3 separate regions of the Homo sapiens genome follow, and regions 2 and 3 are each linked to region 1. The links come from fine-mapping of genetic effects on gene expression. A gene starts in region 1. Each other region holds a variant in brackets. All regions are shown on one strand. Distances are from middle to middle. Region 1 holds the start of TXK (TXK tyrosine kinase). Region 2 overlaps LOC105374445 (a long non-coding RNA gene). Region 3 overlaps TEC (tec protein tyrosine kinase).

Evidence for each region.
Region 2: its variant is fine-mapped to the expression of TXK in neutrophils (BLUEPRINT, PIP 0.95).
Region 3: its variant is fine-mapped to the expression of TXK in monocytes (Quach 2016, PIP 0.95).

What each region holds. Positions count from the first base shown.
Region 1 is chr4:48,132,885-48,135,648 of GRCh38, reverse strand. It overlaps TXK (TXK tyrosine kinase), which reads left to right and starts at 1,399. Exons shown (of 15, transcript NM_003328.3): 1 at 1,399-1,494. The coding sequence starts at 1,479. RefSeq lists a silencer at 1,663-1,957.
Region 2 is chr4:48,290,975-48,293,738 of GRCh38, reverse strand. LOC105374445 (a long non-coding RNA gene) reads right to left here. Exons shown (of 2, transcript XR_007058111.1): 2 at 713-1,938. Among named protein-coding and RNA genes, the nearest start is that of TEC, 23 kb to the right of the region's middle. RefSeq lists an enhancer at 1,398-2,393. The variant C/G (reference allele first, on the strand shown) is at 1,055.
Region 3 is chr4:48,172,199-48,174,962 of GRCh38, reverse strand. All of the region lies in intron 3 of TEC (tec protein tyrosine kinase), which reads left to right. Among named protein-coding and RNA genes, the nearest start is that of TXK, 39 kb to the right of the region's middle. The variant A/G (reference allele first, on the strand shown) is at 1,407.

The DNA of each region.
Region 1 (2,764 bases):
ATGGTGGTTTGCTGCACCTATCAAAAACTCATCACCTAGGTATGCATTAGCTATTTTTCCTGATATTAGCCTGATATATATATTTCCTGATATTAGCCTGGCATGCATTAGCTATTTTTCCTGATGCTCTCCCCTCATCTGCCCTCCCCAACAGGCCCCAGTATGTGTTGTTCCCCTCCCTGTGTCCATGTGTTTCATGGTTCAGTTCCCACTTATAAGTGAGAACATGTGGTGTTTGGTTTTCTGTTCCTGCATTACTTTGCTAAGGATAACGGCTTCCAGTTCCATCCATGTCCCTGCAAAGGACATGATTTCATTCTGTATAGCTGCATAATATTCCACGGTGTATATGTACCACATTTTCTTTATCCAGCCTATCATTGATGGGCATTTTGGTTGCTAACCATGCACAACTTTTAACTGACTTGTAGCTCATTGAAGGAGTCGGTCCTGGCACACTCTACCTTACTATCACTGTCAGCCTTTTCTCCTTCCTTCCTGACCTTCCCTCCTCCCATCCCATACTTCCCTTTTCACCTTGAGGAGCTACGGGAAGTACTAGGTGGTATGAAAGAGAGTGAGGAGAAGATAGAGTCCCTGTCCTAATGGTCAGTGTATGCTTTTTATGGGAAAACAAGATAGATAGCACCTGGCAACATTTGTCAACATTTCCTTCAAAAATCTTTAAATATTTTTCACTAAGACTTAGAAAAAAAGTTTTATACGAAAGCATAACAAAGGCAAAAGGTGAAGTAAAAATAACAGTCATCACCCAGAATGCTAAGGAGACCTTAATCTAAACCAGGAAATTGGAAGGGCGATTAGAATATGCTGTGTCTTCATTAAAGTTGCTCTGTTAATTAGTTGACACATGGTTATGCTTTCCAGTGGGATGAAGTGAAACTCCCAAGTGTGTTTTGTATTGTTGGTGTTTTTATATTTCTCAGCCATCCCCCAATCACATTTTAGGGTTATTACTAGATTGACTTCCCCCAAATAAAGTGTCTGCTGAGTGGGAGGATGGAACATTCTAAACTCAATATTCCAGAGCCTAGAATCTAATTGTTTCTGCCACTCACGGTGTGGCCTTGGGCAAGTCCCTTATTCTGTCTGTGCCTTCATTTCCTTCCCAGTCCAGAGAGGGCAGTTTGATTTGATAATTTTAAAGGTGCCTTTTACCAAAATTTTGTGATTTCTTGAAAATGATGTTTGCGAGTCACCCACACCTTTGGGGATGAGAGACTAATAGCAGATACCCTCAGAGATTGGGATGGAGATTACTGAGCTTTCTTATATATGCCATTGGTTGTCATTTATACTCTTCTGAGGTTTTCAGAACAGGAAAATAGGTGGGGTTAACTCTGCCCGTGAGAAACATCTTGAGCGAACTATGATTTCAGTTGAAAGATGTGTTTTTGTGAGTAGAGCACCGCAGAAGAACTGAAGACTGTTGTGTGCTCCCCGCAGAAGGGGCTACCATGATCCTTTCCTCCTGTGAGTAAGATGGGCTTTGTCATTTATTTTTGGGGCTTGTTCTGGGGCCTGTTATTCTTGAACAGCAGAGGAAGTTTTTTTTTTCCAAGGCATAGAGCTTGGGGACATTAAAAGATAATTTCCTCAGATGTTGTGACAGAGTTTTGTTTCTTATTTAAAGAACCACAGTGATGATGTAATTCTAATAAAGGTTCAGCATTGAGAACATAAATGAAAGAAAAACAGAAAGAGTGTCCAGAAATCTGCATATGTGTGTGTAGAAATGCAATCAGTATGAAGTACTTGTTTTTAGAATGAGACTGTAATGAGCTCTGGGCTGAAGGCCAGGAGACCAAGTTCTAGTTCTGGATTTGCTCCAGCAGTGGTGGATCACAGTGGGCAACTTTATATATATATAAATACACACACATACACACACACACAAATAAATATCTATATTTAAGGCAAAAGGAAGAGAAGTCAAAACACAACTGTGTTTATACTCTGAAATTATCTGCTTTATCAAGTAAACATATAGACTTAACCTTTATTTTCACAGGGGTATTTATTCACAATTCTATGTAGACTTCCGTTATCGAGGACCTTTCCCAAGCAATTGAAATTTAGGCAAAACTGATTCTTATCTGCAGTCAGAGCCTGAGTAAAGGCCAAAATAAGAGTCAAAGTCACGAGTCTCTACCTGGTTAAAAGTGTGAACATGGTCAAGTGTGAACACTGGCTCAAATGTCTCTTTCCCTCATATATAATACTACATATGAAGATGTTATTTTAATATTTTTATAGAATATAAGACCATCATTAAAAATAAGTGCTTGTTTTAGGAGAACAGAGAAAGATTCCCTAGACACTGTTATCTGTGAAGATCCTTGGTTTGAAAGAGCTGTGGGGGATGCTTATAAATCCAAAGAAATTAGAATAAAAAAAAAAACCAAGCAGAATAGTCTTCTAAATAAGAAGGCAGCCGTCATATCAGAATTGCAATGTGTTTGTTTCTTTATAAAGGTATTTATTGAGCACCTACTATGGGCCATGGTCTATACCAGTTCCTTTATATTCATTATCTGAAATCTTCACTACAAACTGGCAAGGTGAAAATTGTTATTCTTATCTAGCCAATAAGAAAATTGTGCCTTTGAAAGTTTAAATCTTGCCAGAAACTCATATGGTTGTCAGACGCAGGATTTAAGTATGAGACTTTTTTTTTTTTTTTAGACAGAGTCTTGCTCTGTCACCCAGGCTGGAGTGCAGTGGCACGATCTCAGCTCACTGC
Region 2 (2,764 bases), 160 kb before region 1:
ATGATGGCCATAACGCCCAGGCTGGAAGGTTGTGGGTTTACCGGAATGAGAGCAAGGAACACCTGGCCTGCCCAGGGCAGAAAACCGCTTAAAGGCATTCTTAAACCACAAACAGTAGCATGAGCGATCTCTGCCTTAAGGGCATATTCCTGCTGCAAATAACTAGCCAGACCCACCCCTTTATTTCGGCCCACCCCTTCGTTTCCCATAAGGGATACTTTTAGTTAATCGAATATCTATAGAAACAATGCTAATGACTGGCTTGCTGTTAATAAATATGTGGGTAAATCTCTGTTCGGGGCTTTCAGCTCTGAAGGCTGTGAGACCCCTCATTTCCCACTTCACACCTCTATATTTCTGCATGTGTGTCTTTTTTTCCTTTTTTTTTTTTTTATTGATCATATTTGGGTGTTTCTCGCAGAGGGGGATTTGGCAGGGTCATAGGACAATAGTGGAGGGAAGGTCAGCAGATAAACAAGTGAACAAAGGTCTCTGGTTTTCCTAGGCAGAGGACCCTGCGGCCTTCCGCAGTGTTTGTGTCCCTGGGTACTTGAGATTAGGGAGTGGTGATGACTCTTAACGAGCATGCTGCCTTCAAGCATCTGTTTAACAAAGCACATCTTGCACCGCCCTTAATCCATTTAACCCTGAGTGGACACAGCACATGTTTCAGAGAGCACAGGGTTGGGGGTAAGGTCAAAGATCAACAGGATCCCAAGGCAGAAGAATTTTTCTTAGTACAGAACAAAATGGCGTCTCCCATGTCTACTTCTTACTACACAGACATAGCAACAATCTGATTTCTCTATCTTTTCCCCACATTTCCCCCTTTACTATTCGACAAGACCGTCATCGTCATCATGGCCCGTTCTCAATGAGCTGTTGGGTACACCTACCAGACGGGGTGGCAGCCGGGCAGAGGGGCTCCTCACTTCCCAGAAGGGGCGGCAGGGCAGAGGCGCCCCCCACCTCCCTCCTGGACGGAGCGGCTGGCCGGGCGGGGGCTGCCCCCCTACCTCCCTCCCGGACGGGGCGGCTGGCGGGGCGGGGGCTG[C/G]CCCCCCACCTCCCTCCCGGTCGGGTCGGCTGGCCGGGCGGGGGCTGCCCCCCGCCTCCCTCCCAGACAGGGCGGCTGCCGGATGGAGACGTTCCTCACTTCCCAGACGGGGCAGCTGCTGGGCAGAGGGGCTCCTCACTTCTCAGACGGGGCGGCTGCCGGGCGGAGGGGCTCCTCACTTCTCAGATGGGGCGGCTGTCGGGCAGAGGGGCTCCTCACTTCAGACGGGGCGGCCGGGCAGAGACGCTCCTCACCTCCCAGATGGGGTCTCGGCCGGGCAGAGGCGCTCCTCACATCCCAGATGGGGCGGCGGGGCAGAGGCACTCCCCACATCTCAGACGATTGGCGGCCAGGCAGAGATGATCCTCACTTCCTAGACATGATGGCCAGGAAGAGGCACTCCTCACTTCCCAGGCTGGGCAGCCGGGCAGAGGGGCTCCTCACATCCCAGACGATGGGCGGCCAGGCAGAGACGCTCACTTCCCAGACCGGGTGGCGGCCGGGCAGAGGCTACAATCTCGGCACTTTGGGAGGCCAAGGCAGGCGGCTGGGAGGTGGAGGTTGTAGCTAGCCGAGATCAAGCCACTGCACTCCAGCCTGGGCAACATTGAGCACTGAGTGAACGAGACTCCATCTGCAATCCCGGCACCTTGGGAGGCCGAGGCTGGCAGATCACTCGTGGTTAGGAGCTGGAGACCAGCCCGGCCAACACAGCGAAACCCCGTTTCCACCAAAAAAAATATACGAAAACCAGTCAGGCGTGGCGGCGCGCGCCTGCAATCACAGGCACTGGGCAGGCTGAGGCAGGAGAATCAGGCAGGGAGGTTGCAGTGAGCCGAGATGGCAGCAGTACAGTCCAGTTTCGGCTCGGCATCAGAGGGAGACTGTGGAAAGAGAGGGAGAGGGAGACTGTGGGGAGAGCAAGAGGGAGACCGTGGGGAGAGCAAGAGGGAGAGGGAGAGGGAGAGGGCATGTGTGTCTTTAATTCCTCTAGCGCCGCTGGGTTAGGGTCTCCCCAGCCAAGCTGGTCTTGGCAACAGAATTTCACCATGTTGGCCAGGATGGTCTTGATCTCCTGACCTCATGATCTGCCTGCCTCTGCTGGGCAGGGTGGCTCACTCCTGTAATCTCTTTATCTTCTTATAAGGACGCCAGTCCTATTGGATTAGGACCCCACACTTAGGATGTCATTTAACCTTAATTACCTCCTGACAGTTCCCATTTACAAATACAGTCACTTTGGGGGTTACAGCTTTAACCTATGAATTTTGGGAGGACATAATTCAGCCCATCACAGCTTCCCTTGGAAATGTTACCTGGAGGCCTGGGGTTGGTTCATCAGTGTAAAGTGACTGGAGATTCTGATTTAGATGAATTCAGAGACAGGAGGAAAGGACGTGAGTTGGGGCTTCAAATACTTTTGCCTTCACTTCACCCCTTCTCAATTCAAAGTTGGACCATATTATCTGTCCATCTAAAACCACCCAGCTTAATCCTTCTCAGTGGGTTAGGAACACAGCATTTTTTTTTTTTTTTTTTTTGAGACAGAGTCTCGCTCTGTCACCCAGGCTGGAGTGCAGTGGTGCAATCTCAGCTCACTGCAAGCTCCGCCTCCCAGGTTCTCCTGCCTCAGCCTCCCGAGTAGCTGGGACTACAGGCGCCCGCCTCCATGCCTGGCTAATTTTTTGTATTTTTAGTAGAGATGGGGCT
Region 3 (2,764 bases), 39 kb before region 1:
TAAAAAATGGGAATAATAACAATAATAGTACTCATTTCATGGGGTTGTTGTGAGGATTAACTGATGTGATATATAAATAGCTTTGACATATAATCAGAGCAAGGTAAGTGGTAGTTGCTATTATTACTATTGCTATTCTCTTACTACTGCTGCTGCTATTAATATTACACCTAATATTACACCTACCACCTGGATCTAGAAGTAAGATAAATTTAAACCTTCTTCTTAAGTATGTTTAATGCATATATAATGGAAATTTAGCAGAGAACCATTCCTACCACACTTCTTTTTTTTTTTTTCCTTTGAGATGGAGTCTTCCTTTGTCACCCAGGCTGGAGTGCAGTGGTATGATCTCAGCTCACTGAGACCTCCACTTCCCAGGTTCAAGCGATTCTCATGCCTCAGCCACCCAAGTAGCTGGGATTATAGGCATATACCACCATGCCTGGCTAATTTTTGTATTTTTAGTAGAGACAGGGTTTCACCATGTTGGCCAGGCTGGTCTCGAACTCCTGGCCTCAAGTGATCTGCCTGCCTCAGCCTCCCAAAGTACTGAGATTACAGTCGTGAGCCACTGCACCGGGCCTCCTACCACAGCTTTGATGGCTATTAGACATGCTAGGGATTGACAGCATTGGGGAGCTGTGGCTGTCATGATTCTGGACCCAGCATTAGGATTTTTGCTGTCCAAGAAAGAGAGATTCACTCTGCAAGTTTTGGGTTGCTTTTAAGAATGATAATACAAGTAGAACAGAACGCATTCCATCCCTGAACTACTAAAATTGTTGAGATGAATAAATATGAGAAAAGTTTGAAAACAATCTGAAAAATTAATCAAGAAGGGATAAGCTTGAGCTTTATACAATTTAAAGCAGCATGATTTAAAAGGTGAAAAATACCCTCTCTTATTATAACTTAAGTATAACTAAGAAAGTATAGATCCTAGTTTCACATTTTCATAGTGAAATTTTACATTAGGTTCAGATGCAAAGTGAAAACAATAAAAGTAGAAGTAGACATTTTCAAAAGACACTGGGAGAAGAAAGTAGGACGGATGGAGAGAATGGTGGGGAATCCACACCAGCTGCCTAGATGGGATGGTTGCTCCTTCATGCTTTTCTAGATGAGTCATTCTGATGGCAGCTGGGAGATCCCCAGGAGCTGGCATGTCTTCCCTGGGCTTCAAACCCAGATCTGTCTACCTTTTGTCTGTGCTGTTTCTCCTACACCACACTATTAAGTCTATGGAATAAATGAATGAGTGGATGGAAGATATAAATAGGAGGGTGGGTAACTACCAGTGGGTAGTGTTACTGAGGGAGAGTATTCCCTCCTTGTTTAAATGGTTTCTGCACTTGAAGTTTGCAAAGCTCTTCCCTCCCAACAGCCTCTGCTGTGGTAGGATG[A/G]CTCAGCACAAGAATTAAGGCAGAGAGAAACACAGCTCCCTGGATCCTTCTCCCCAAGAGGCCAACATTGTGTGATCTGAGGTTTGCTCAGGGAGATACTGGCCCACAAATACCTCTTCAGCCTGAGATGCCAAAACAGGGTGCTATTCCTAGAAACTTCTCGTAGAAATACAAATGCCCCAAGTTAGCTAGGTAATATATCAAGCTAGTTTTAGTTATCGAAACTCTGAATTTGGATTAGGTTTTTTTTGGTGGGGGGAGGCGGTTAGCTAGTCTAACAAACTTTAAGGAAGTTTCACAGGCTCACGGTACTGACACGAGATGAGTTTTGTGGGGAAGTTAGACTGCTTGGAGTCTGGAAAGGCAGATTCCAGGAGGGGAATAGTCAAGGGATATTTGGGGGTTAAATATCCTACTCATATGACTTAACCTCAGCCACTTTGGTTTTGTCATTTGAAAAAAGAGGATTCTAACACTAAGAAAGAACTGGATTGCTGTATGGATGATATGAGGCAGTGCATATAAAGTGCTTAGCCCAATTGTGGGGACTCAGTAAATTATTATAATAAATTAAATTGTTATTACAATACACCACAGGTTTCTGGAAGGTCCAAGGCCCTAGCAGTCTTTTCCAGACATCTCAATGTCAATTCAGAATGACTAGTTCACGGTGCATAGTTCCTTCTGTACAGAGTTGGTTGTGTGGGCAAGCCTGCATAAATGTGAAAATCATGGAGCAAATGAGGAAACACATCTCTTCACATCTCCTTTAGCACTTTATCGCTCTGATATCATGGCTCACTTTCTGTCTTGTAATAAGGTATTTCTATATTTGTCTTAGAAACAGGCTTCATGTCCGATTCATTTTTGTGTCTTATGCAGTTCCAGCAAGGTGCGAATGGTATATAGCATCATTTGTTCTATGGTGTTCACATTACTATTACAGTGCATTTCTGGCTGGTTACCGTGGCTCTCACACCTGTAATCCTAGCACTTTGGAGGCTCAGGTGGGAAGATCACTTGAGCCGAGGGGGTTCCAGGTTGTAGTGAGCTGTAATTCCACCCCTGCCATCCAGCATGGGCAACAGAGCAAGACCCCATCTCTAAGAAAAAAAAAAAAAGTACATTCCTTTGATTTAAATGAATAAGAAGGAATTCTCTATTGAATATGGTCAGTGATAACCATTTATCAATGAAAGAGCTATTTGGTTTTCAATCCAGTGGGTGTGGACGTGACAAAGGGAGGTTTCTAGCCATGTATTAACTTTTTAGCCAGTCTAAACAGATTTCTGCCTTGTGACTGACCATGAAGAATAAAATGAAAAAATTTCTGGCTTAGTTTCCCAGGGTTATCTTAT